Homo sapiens: one gene and its partners. The protein of the gene in region 3 interacts with the protein of the main gene of each other region in a biochemical or structural test. Each region holds a gene or a part of one and is shown on either strand. Other genes may lie near its edges.

The links.
Region 1: the proteins of DAB1 (region 3) and PAFAH1B1 form a complex in vitro, tested with the Homo sapiens proteins (one study listed by BioGRID).
Region 2: the proteins of DAB1 (region 3) and SOCS7 form a complex in vitro, tested with the Homo sapiens proteins (one study listed by BioGRID).

Annotation. Positions count from the first base shown.
Region 1 is NC_000017.11:2,591,501-2,595,325, forward strand, and holds the start of PAFAH1B1 (platelet-activating factor acetylhydrolase IB subunit beta), read left to right. Parts: upstream 1-2,153; 5' UTR 2,154-2,506; exon of another isoform or gene 2,507-2,894; intron 2,895-3,825. UniProt on the Homo sapiens protein: Regulatory subunit (beta subunit) of the cytosolic type I platelet-activating factor (PAF) acetylhydrolase (PAF-AH (I)), an enzyme that catalyzes the hydrolyze of the acetyl group at the sn-2 position of PAF and its analogs and participates in PAF inactivation.
Region 2 is NC_000017.11:38,389,762-38,393,586, forward strand, and holds part of SOCS7 (suppressor of cytokine signaling 7), read left to right. Parts: intron 1-3,825. UniProt on the Homo sapiens protein: Substrate-recognition component of a cullin-5-RING E3 ubiquitin-protein ligase complex (ECS complex, also named CRL5 complex), which mediates the ubiquitination and subsequent proteasomal degradation of target proteins, such as DAB1 and IRS1.
Region 3 is NC_000001.11:57,018,461-57,022,060, reverse strand, and holds part of DAB1 (disabled homolog 1), read left to right. Parts: intron 1-3,600. UniProt on the Homo sapiens protein: Signaling adapter of the reelin-mediated signaling pathway, which regulates the migration and differentiation of postmitotic neurons during brain development.

The DNA of each region.
Region 1 (3,825 bases), on a different chromosome or scaffold from region 3:
ATCCACCTGTCTGAGCCTCCCAAAGTGTTGGGATTGCAGGCGTGAGTCCCCGCGCCCGGCTGTTTTTCTTTTCTTTTTTTGTTTTTAGAGATGAGATCTTGCTTTGTTGCCCTGGCTGGTCTGGATCTCCAGGGCTTGAGCAATCCTCCCATCTCATCCTCCCCAGTAGCTGGGACTACAGGCATGTGCCACCACACTTAGCTAATTTTTAAAATTTTTTTGTAGAGATGAGGTTTCACTATGTTGCACCTGCTGGTCTCCAACTCCTTGGCTCAGGTGATCCACGGCCCCCCTCCCAACCTCCCCATCCCTGCCTTGGCCTCCCAAATTGCTGGGATTACAGGGGTTAGCAACCTGTGCCTGGCAGAGATAACCTTTCTTGAACAAAGGAAACTTGTTTTGGTATCAAGCAACAGTAATGTTTACATGAGTTACCTATAAGTCCCCACGAAACTAAGATACTTTACACAGGCTGCACCTCCTCTGTAATTCTCACAAAAGCCGGGTTAGTTATTAGGTGTCTTTTATTGAGAAACTGAGGCCAAAGAGAGGTATGGTAATTTGCCCCAGGTCGCGCTTCTGGCAAGTGCGGGGTCCAGGATTTACACCTAAGTTGTCTCTTTCGTTAACTCTGCTGCTTCTCAAATGCAGTATATATATATATATTTACCTACATAAAGTGACGCAATAAAATCAGTACACATAAGCTTAAGCCTGTTTCAAGAAAAAAGCTTCCTTGGACAATACAAATGAATGATAAGATAATCTCATTTAAACCTGTTATTAAAATAATAGCCCATATTGAATTATTCAGAACCCCAAATCTCGCTTTTTAAAAATCAAGGGTCGGCTGAGCACGGTGGCTCACGCCTGTAATCCCAGCACTTTGGGAGGCAGAGGCGGGCGGATCACGAGGTCAAGGGATCGAGACCATCCGGGCCAACATGATGAAACCCCGTCTCTACTAAAAATACCAAAAAAATTAGCCGGGCGTGGTGGTGGGCGCCTGTGGTCCCAGCTACTCGGGAGGCTGAGGCAGGAGAATGGCGTGAACCCGGGAGGCGGAGCCTGCAGTGAGTGGAGATTGCACCACTGCACTCCAGCCTGGGCGACAGAGCGAGACTCCATCTCAAAAACAAAAACAAAAACAAAAAACAAAAATTAGCTGGGCGTGGTGGCAAGTGCCTGTACTCCCAGCTACTCGGGAGGCTGATGCAGAGAATCGCTTGAACTCGGGAGGCGGAGGTTGCAGTGAGCCGAGATCGCGCCACTGCACTCCAGCCTGGGCGACACAGCGAGACTCCGTCTCAAAAAAAAAAAAAAAAAAAAAAGGAAAAGAAAAGAAAAATCATAGGTATCTGTGTGGAATAAATTAACTACAAATCCCCAAGACGACTCTTGTCATCAATATTTCAATCCATAATTTAGCAAACACACACAGACATCCCTTATAGGGATACAGTTCCAGGCCTTTCTTTGGGCATCCGTTTCGAGACCTGGAGAGACTCTGATGTCTGTGTGTGACTAAGGAGAAGAATAGCTGAATCATATCCAAAAGCGAGTCCTCCCAATTAAGAATCTATAATACAAATCAAGACAATGACAGCATTCCATCTGCCTTTTAACCTCAACAGCTCCTCCTCCCAAGCCAGCCAGCCTACTCCCCTCCCTCATTCCCCCCCAAACTGGGAAATCATCTCGGAGGCCGGAGGCAGAAAGGGGCGGTAGGTGGCCGGGCCCCGCTGCCTCTCGCGCCTCCCGGGGCCCGCCACACACGGTGCCAACGGGACGCCGCGGTCGGCCGCATGAGCGCAAAAGCAGGGCAGCGAGGTGAGCAGAGCCAGAGTTCAGAAGGGGCCGCAAGTCAGACGAGGGGCTGGGAAAAAAGAGCCTCTCCCAAGGTTAACAGAAGCGTGCGGAGCGTGAGAAGCAGCACCTCGCACGCAGACTCGCCCGCCGGCCGGGTGGCACCGCTCAGCCGCCCGCCCGCTAGAAGGCAGCGCGGCCCCGGCCCGGCCCAGCCCGGCGCATGCGCCGCAGCCCCTCCTCCGCTCCCGGCGCCCGCCCCTCCCTCTTCCTGGCGGGTCTGGGGCGGCGGCGGCGGCGGCGGCGGCGGCGCGGTGACGTCAGGGCGTTGGGGCAGCTCCTGTGACAGACGGAGCTGGAGCGGCGGGGCGGCGGCGGAGTCCGGCGGCCGGGAGAGCGAGTGAGCGAGCGGAGGAGCAGCGACACGGGAGTCTAGGGAGCGAGAAGGAGAAGGAGGGGAGCGCTCGGGCGCGAGCGAGAGAAACCGCGAGCGCCGAGCTTGGACTCGAGCCCCGGAACGGCTGAGGAGCCCGCCCGCTCCCCTCCCCTCCCCCTCCCCGGGCCCGGGCCCAGCGCGCCATCCTCCCCCCTCCTTCCCTCCCTCCCTCCTTCCTCCCTCCCCTCTCCCTCCCCCTCCCCCGCCGGTGGATGGGAGTGAAGGACGGAAGAGGCCCTGCGGAGGCGGCGGTGCAGCGCTCCGGTAAGGCGGCGCGGGTCTGCGCCCTCCCCTCTGTCTCCTCCACCGCGCCCGGGCGGCTGCAGGCCGGACCCGGCGGCCTGACGATGTGGCTGCGCCGGTCCCCTCCCTCCCATTCTCCCCTCCCCCTGCCTCCGCCGCCGCCTCCTCCTTCTTCTTCTCTCCTCGCTCTCAAAATGGCGGCCGCGACGGCCGTTGAGTGAGAGACCCGGAGGAGGGGGACTGTCCGGGGAGGGCGCTGCCCTCGCTCCTCTCCTCCCGGGCCCGGCTTTGGGGGCTGCCGGCGCCTCTGCGACCCCCGCCCCGCGGCCCTCCCCAAGAAGGGATCGCCCTCCTCCCTCGGTGACTTAGCAAGAAAAGTATTCTTGGGTTGGAAGGGCGTGGGGACCAGGTAGCTCTCTGATCTTGGGGAAAAGGATCGGCCCTGCTCTCCCCGGCCGCGGAGACGAGCACCGCAGTCCCCACCCCACCCTCAGTTATCGGCTCGGGGACCGGCTCAGCCCCGCGCCGCCGGGGCACTCATAGGGCCTTCCAGGCATTCCGTCCCCGACTGGTCCTTAAGATGGGGTTGACCAGCGGAGGGTGGCCCACCGTCTCCCTGGCCCCCGGTGCGGCGGTCCAGCCTCAGCACCCGCCGAGGAGAGGCAGCCCGGCCCACCGAGCAATCCGCAGCATCCACCCACCGAATCTGGCAGGATTTTCTTTCTGCCACCGGCTCCTCGGTCGGGAGTTGCCTTTTGATGCTGTTAACATTCAGCTTCGAGGCTCCCTGCCATTCCCCTTCGTCTAATCTCATCTCCCTGCCCCTTTGGGAAACGCAGTGCCTCTGCATATTTACCCTCTTTAGCCTCCCACATGAGAAAATGCCTTTGAGGTGGTCGACACATTTTGACTCTGCACCTCTAAACGTAGCAGTAGAGGGGAAGAGGTTTTCCGTATTTAGTAGGAGAGAGCAAGGTACCATAGCTTTATATGTTATGCTACCTTTCTTCAGTGACTTAGCAAGAAACTCCTTGGGAAGAGGGCAGGAAATTTTCTTTTGGGGTTTGGGCCCAATTTATATCAGTCTTTTGGTTAAGAAAATACGCCTTTGAAGAGGAGGACCAGATTTGTGGTCTCGTTCTCAATGGGCGATGTCATGCCAAGGTCCCCCCTCCCTCTTTCCTTAAGTGGCAGTCCGGACAAATAGAGATATTACTGATATTCCCATCTCTCCTTTAAGCACACAGTCTTGGAGTTTCATAAGGTTTTAAAGGCCAAACAAACAATTTGTGCCATTTTTGGCAATTCTGTTTTTGTTGGGGGGGTGGGTTATTTTGTGT
Region 2 (3,825 bases), on a different chromosome or scaffold from region 3:
TATTTTCTTCTAGGAGACTTAAACTTTTAGCTTTTACATTAGGTCTACTATCCGTTTTGAGTTAATTTTTGTTTTTTAATTTTTTTGTTTGGTGTGTATGTGTGTACATATATATATATATGTACATATATATATATACACATATAGAGAGAGAGAGAGAGAGAGAGTGAGAGAGAGAGAGACAGAGTCTCTCTCTGTCACCGAGGCTGGAGTGCAGTGGCACGATCGTGGCTCACTGCAACCTCCGCCTCCTGGCCTTAAGTGATCCTCCCACCTCAGCCTCTCAAAGTTCTGGGATTACAGGTGTGAGCCACCGTACCCAGCCTTGAATTTTTGTGTATGGCATGAGAAAGGAGTCCAACTTTATTCTTTTTCATGTGAATATTCAGTTGTTCTAGCGCCATTTGTTGAAAAGATACTCTTTCCCCATTGAATTGTCTTGGCATCTTTGTTGAAATCAGTTGATTGTAACTGTGAAGGTTAATTTCCGGACTCAGTTCTATTCCATTGAGTTGTATGTCCATCCTTATGCCATTACTGTCTTGATTCCTATAGTTTTGTAGTACTTTTTGAGATGGAAAAGTGTGAGTCTCCAACTTTGTTGTTTTTCAAGTTGGTTTTGACTATTTTGGGTCTCTTGCATTTCCATATGAATTTTAGGATCAGATTGTCAATTTCTGCAAAGAAGCCTACTGAGATTTTAATACCCCCATGTTGGCAAGAGTGTGGAGTTGAGTCAGTACATCAATTTGGGGAGGGAATATTGGCATGTCAACAATATTATGTCTTCTGATCCATGGACATAGGCTGTCTTTCTGCTTATTTAGGTCTTTTTAAAAACTCTTTGAACAATGTTTTATATTTTTTCTTTTGTTCGTTTTCCTTCCTTCCTTCCTTCCTTCCTTCCTTCCTTCCTTCCTTCCTTCCTTCCTTCTCTTTCTTTCTGTCTTTTTTTTTTTTTTTGTCCCACTGTCACCCAGTCTGGAGTGCAGTGGTGCCTGGCTCACTAACTACAACCTCCACCTCCCTGGCCCAGTGTGTCCTGCACTTCAGCCTCCTGTGTAGCTGGGACTATAGGCACACACAACCATGCCCAGCTGATCTTTATATTTTTAGTAGAGATGGGGTCTCACCGCATTGCCCAGGCTGGTTTCTAACCCTTTGGCTCAAGCCATCCACCTTGCCTCAGCCTCCCAAAGTGCTGGGATTATAGGTATGAGCCACTGTGCCTGGCCCATATTTTTTCATAATATAAGTTTTGTATTTCTTTTGTTAAATTTATTTTTTAGTATTTGTTTTTGATCCTATTGTAAATTGTTTTCTTAATTTTAATTATTTTTGGATTGTTTATAGCTAGAGTATAGAAATTTAATTGCTTTTTGCACATTCATGTTATATCCTGTAAACTTGCATAACTCATTTATTAGTTCTATTATGTATTTCTTTTTAAATTGTGAAATAACATGTATGTGGTAAAAAGGTCAAATAGTGCGCAAGGGAATATAAGGAAAAGTGAATCTTCTGCCCTCTCACCCCTGCTCCCACTAAGCTAAACTATTGTTTAGTTTTTCTTAAGCTGTTTCAAGCTGAAGAAAGGAGTGGGATATTAAAAAACAGTGCTTCACTGTTAGCTGAATATCTTTTTTTTAGACAGGGTCTTACCCTATCACTCAGGCTGGAGTGCAGTGGTACAATCATAGCTCACTGCAGCCTCAGCCTTCTGGGCTTAAGCAGTCCTCCCACTTAAGCCTCCTGAGTAGCTGGGACCACTGTTGTGCACCACAATGCCTGGCTAATTTTTTTAATTTTAATTTTTGTAGAGGTAAGGTCTCCCTCCCTATGTTGCCCAGGCCAATCTTGAACTCCTGGGCTCAAGCAGTCCTCCCACCTCAGCCTCCCAAGGTGCTGGGATTACAGGCGTGAGCCACCGCACTGGGCCTTCTTTTACTTTTGACCTTGTGCTTGTTTTTTTCTTCTTGGAGGATTACATATAAGTCAACTAGACTCCCTAGTTTATTCTCTTTTTACTTACACTGTTAAGAAAATGAGATCTGGAATGTGAAACAGATGTGATTCCTTATCTGATTCTGTCTTCAGGGGTCAGAAAAACCTTTGGTGTGGCAGAAAGACATGGGTATTTGGGTGTTTATACCTGGAAGAGATTTCTTACCCCTAACATGGTCTTTGTTGGGAGAAACGAAAAATAGTGCATGGCTAGAAACTAGGTTTGTGCCCAGGACCTCTGGCATGAGGACTGGAAGAAAGTTACTGACGATTAATGTTCGACTTCACCCTTACTCTTTTAGTCCCAGTTGGGTCTTATCCTGGATTCTTCACATTTTTAACTGCTTCTGTTAGCATGCTCTAAATGTGAGAGTTCTAATTGTTTGTTGGCGTTTGTGGGCAAACAGTAAATGGTCAGATTAATACCAGGGAATATCAGAAAATTAACAGGTTTCAAATTGCTATTTGTAAACCTAAAGGCTAAAAGTAATACAATTAAATAGGCAAGTATATGTGGTCATTAAAATTCAAGTAGGCAAACAATCAGATAATTGTATGTTGCATATTATCCTGATCTCTTTAAGCACAGTGTTATCTTTGGGAATAAATTATTAGATGTATAAATTACTTTTATCTCTGAAACATCATGTTGAGTTTACCAGTATTACAGCCAATCCCCCAAAGCTTTCTGTTTGCCACAGTTTAATTTACTAAAGAATATATAAATACCAGTGAGGGACAGGACAAATTCAAAGAGGCATTTGAACCCAAAATTATTTCTTAAAACCACTTGAGTTAAATATATTCAGGTGAGAAATTCACGTGTGAGTTCTTTTTCTTTTCTTTTAATGGAGAGGACCAGCCATGTGGGTAGAGGAGAGAAGTAGGGCTTCAAAATACAAGACTTAGTTTTGAAGGGGTGGGAGTGCCAGGGAGGGGACTAGGAGAGGCTGGTCATGAACCAGAGTGCTGTGACTGTCCTGGACAACCTCCCTGTTAGATGGGCAGAGGTGCAGGCACTCTAGAGACCCTCCTGGAGAACCCTGCTGAGAGGTTCCTCGGCTATGGCAGAGCTACCGATAATTCTTCCTTAGGGCAGGTGTTCAAGGCAGGCCGGCTTTAGTGGCTCCATGCCACAGCAAGTTCTCTAAGCTCAGTGGGCCTCAGTTTCTTTATATGTGAAATGGGGATGGTGGTGTTTGCCTCAAAGTATAGTTTTAAAGACTAAATAAGTTATCATTATTATTTTTGTTTTTTTTTTAGAGACAGGGTCATACTTTGTCACCTAGGCTGGAGTGCAGCGGCACAATCTTGGCTCACTGTAGCCTCGAGTTCCTGGCCTCAAGTGATCTTATCTCCTTGGTCTCCCAAAGTACTAGGATTATAGGCGTGTGCCACTGCACCCAGCCTGAGTTAAATGTTTTTAAGATGAGCTTAACTTGTTCAGTAACAATAAAATAATGTATTTTGATTTTTTTTTTCCCCTGGAAAGTATGTTGTCAGTGATCATGGAAAGGCCTTGGGATGCGGTGTACATGCTTTCATTTGTTTTGTTTTCATGCCTTCAAATAAAATTTTAAAACTATCTGGGCCGGGCATGGTGGCTCATGCCTATAATCCCAGCACTTTGGGAGGCTGAGGCAGGTGGATCACCTGAGGTCAGGAGTTCGAAACTAGACTAGCCAACATGGTGAAACCCCGTCTCTACTAAAAATACAAATATTAGCTGGGTGTGGTGGCGGGCGCCTGTAATCCCAGCTACTCGAGAGGCTAAGGCAGGAGAATCGCTTGAACCTAGGAGTTGGAGCTTGCAGTGAGTCA
Region 3 (3,600 bases):
GAAGACAGGAAATAACATAAAAATAAGTAATTTGCATAATATATTTAAAAATGAGAAGTGATAGGGACAAAAGAAAATGCAGACCAGAGCATGGGGGCTTTTGAGTGCAGGCAGAGGGCAGGTGTAAGTGGAGCCCCTGTAGTCACGAGGGGCTCTTGCCTAGGTGACATGTGACAGGACTAGCAGGGACAGGAAAGTCTCAAGTAGGCATCAGAGTTCCAGGTACTCCAGGCAGAGGAATGACTTGGTCCCCCAAGTCTCCATTCCCTTCTCTATAATTGAGAAGATGGGACTAGATGCAATTTTATATCTCTTCCAGCCCTAACATTTGATTAAAAACACGCTGAGGACCTGCCTGGGTGTATTAGTCCATTCTCACGCTGCTGATAAAGACATACCTGACACCGGGTAATTTACAAAGGAAGGAGTTTTAATGGACTCACTGTTCCACATGGCTGGGTAGGCCTCACAATCATGGTGGAAGAAAAAGGAGGAGCAAAGGAATGTCTTACATGGTGGCAGACAAGAGGGCTTGTGTTCAGGGGAACTCCCCTTTATAAAACCATCAGATCTCATGAGACTTACTCACTACCATGAGAACGGTGTGGGGAAAACCACCCCCATGATTCATTTATCTCCACATGGGGATTATTACAATTCAAGGTGAGATTTGGGTGGGGACACAGCCAAACCATATCACTGGGTCAGTCACAGCACTGCTCTGGGCCCTCTTTCAAACCTGTACCAGATTAGGGACTTGGAAGACCTGGGTTTTAGTCTTGCTGCTTAACCAGCCACATTGGAAGCTATGGACAAGCCACTTCCACATATCCAGATTTCCTTTCTTTAGCTGCTAAAATTTTGATAGATTACCTCCAAGATTTCAACTTTTAGAACACGAGTCTAAAATTAATTTCAATTAGCATGTTTTTGCTTTCTGACTCTAGTTAATATGACAGAACTGGCTTCAGTTGGTGTTAAACTGTGTGCCCTATTTCTCCCTTAACTGGCCATAAAAATTTCTGTAGCTATTGAATCCCGATCTCCTTGTGACTAATTGTCCAGCCAGTGATAAGGAGACAGGGAAGTGAACTGGAGTATGTGATACAACGGATGGACTGGCTCCTGGGGGCTTTTGAATCTAATGGGCCAGGTTTGGATCCTGATTCAGCCATTATTTCTAAGCTTTAGACTCCTGGGCAAATTACTTGACCTGTCAGAGTCAGAGTTTCTTCATCTTTATAACTGAGTGTAAAATAATACTTACTTTGCAACAATATCAAGAGAATTAAATGAATCACTACATTAACTGCAGCTGTAGAAGTGGTATCACTACACACTGAAAAATGCTGGCACATCATCAATATTTAGTGTAGAATATGCTGTATTATTATGATTACTCTGATTTCTACAGTAGATGAATATATGTCCTGTTCTACCTATATTTTTTCCTTTACCTGGAAATTAGTGCCTGTAATAAAGTTTAGGTCTTCAGCCTCTTGACTGCTTATAGCAGACAGCAGGAGAATGGGTGGCCTGGAGAATGTACTATGTATGAACACAAGCTCTGCCACTAGCCAGCTGCACCATACTCAGATAAATATCTTCTGAGCCTCAGGGAACTTACCCCGTTTTAATGGGGATGATCATAATTCTACCTCATAGAGTTTTTCTAAGGATTGCATGAGTAAATGCACATTGTAAAATAGGTACAACAGTTCCTGGCAGTGCTTCCATCAGTAAGCACTCAACAGATGTTTGCTACATGGTTCTTCAGGAGCCTTGGATCTGCTATTCATACAGTGTGTAGCTGCATCAAATCTTTCCCTCATGGAGTTGCAATTTCTCCTATACAAATTAAAGAGATAGCAATCACACTCACCCCAGAGGCTTGTGGAAAGGATCACCTTCACAAAAATGTAAGCTGCACAGGGTAAGAATTTTTTTTTTTGGTGACTGTTTTGTTCTTTGTTTTGTCTCCACACACTAAAGCAGTGATTGGCACCTAGTGGAGGTATTTTTGAATGAATGAATCCATCAAATGAGATAATGTAGATAAGAGATGTCATACAAGTTCTGTATAAATGTTGGAGGAGTTCCTTCGTTTTTAGTGCTTTTCTTATATTTCAGTCTGCCTTTTTTTCTTTTTTCAAATAATGGGGGCATCCCCAGGTGTCAGCATCTGGCTGTAAATCACAATTTTCAACACTTTTTAAAAACCTAACTGTAAGGCAGCAAGGCAGGTGTTCCCTTTCACTCCACAGCAAGGAGATTTATGATTGCTCTGAACTTCACGGCATAAACAGATGCTCCTTAGTACCTCCTCCCTCCACTATTGGACATTAATTGTAAACAGTTAACAAGCTGTTAAGTGGCTGCAGTGGCAGCCACCAAGTGGCTCCCTCTGTCCAGTGCCACCACTGTCCTGCTGCTGACGTGTCCCTTCGCTCATGCACAAGACCATGTGGCCAGACAGCCTTAACTCACAGGCCGAGGAGAGCCAGCCTGCAGGGAACCCCTAGGAAAAGTGAGTGGGACCTGCAGGCTCCTAAACATGATACCCAATTACCCTGTGCTGCCTTTTTTCTTTTGAATATTGTACTTTGGTCTGGAGCAGATGGCATGAAGCCAGAGAGACATGCTAATAGCTCTCTCCAGAAAAGTGTGCACAGCCCATCTGTTAGCTCCTTGTGGAAAAAAAATAAAAGATGGGAGGGGAAAAAAAACCTGCCACCAACAGTAGAATCATCAGAGATCACAGCACTTATGCATTGTGGGTTTAATTAGACACCGGGAAAAATGCAGTGAATGTATTGACTAGGACTCATTTACCTTTATGTAGGGCCTTTCTCCCGTCCCAAACCATGCTAGGCAGGGTGGAAAGAGAGAGAGAATAAAGAGTTCCTGCCAGCAGGTGGTTTCTAGTCTCATCAGGGAAGATAGAACAACCAGGCAATTGCAAGGCAGTGTGACAAGTGTCATGATAGAGGTGAGCACAGGGTACTGTGGAAGCCCAGAGAAGGACCAGTGGTGCTGACAGGAGCAAGAAGCCATCCAACAGAGGTGATAGTGAACTGAGTCTCCAAGAGCAAATCAGGGTTAGACAGCACAGAAGCAGGGGGATGGCTTTCCAGGCAGATGGGCCAGCAGAGACAAGAGACAGCAGGTTGGGTTTTGTTTGCAAATGCTGGAGGGCAAGGTGCAGTGAGGATATGGATTGAAGATAGTGATGAAGAGGTGGAAGGAGCTGACCCCCAAGGACGCATAGCCAAGCTAAGACATCTGAGCCTTATACTTAAGACAATGAAGTACCATATATGCATTTAAAAACAGTCCTTCATGGCAGCAAGGAGGGTGGAATAAAAGCAAAGCCAAAAACAGGCTGATGTCAAGAGAGTGAAAACATCCACTCATTCACCAAAATGGGCATCAGGTCTTGGGTGATTGAATCTGTGGGTAGTTCTCCACCTGCAGACCCAGCACCCCCTTCTTATTACAAATATTTGCAATACCTCCTTTCACACCTTGAAATGAATTTCATAGATAATGTAGTCTAGCTACACAATTTTTCAAAATGAATATAATTCTCTAACTGTAGTA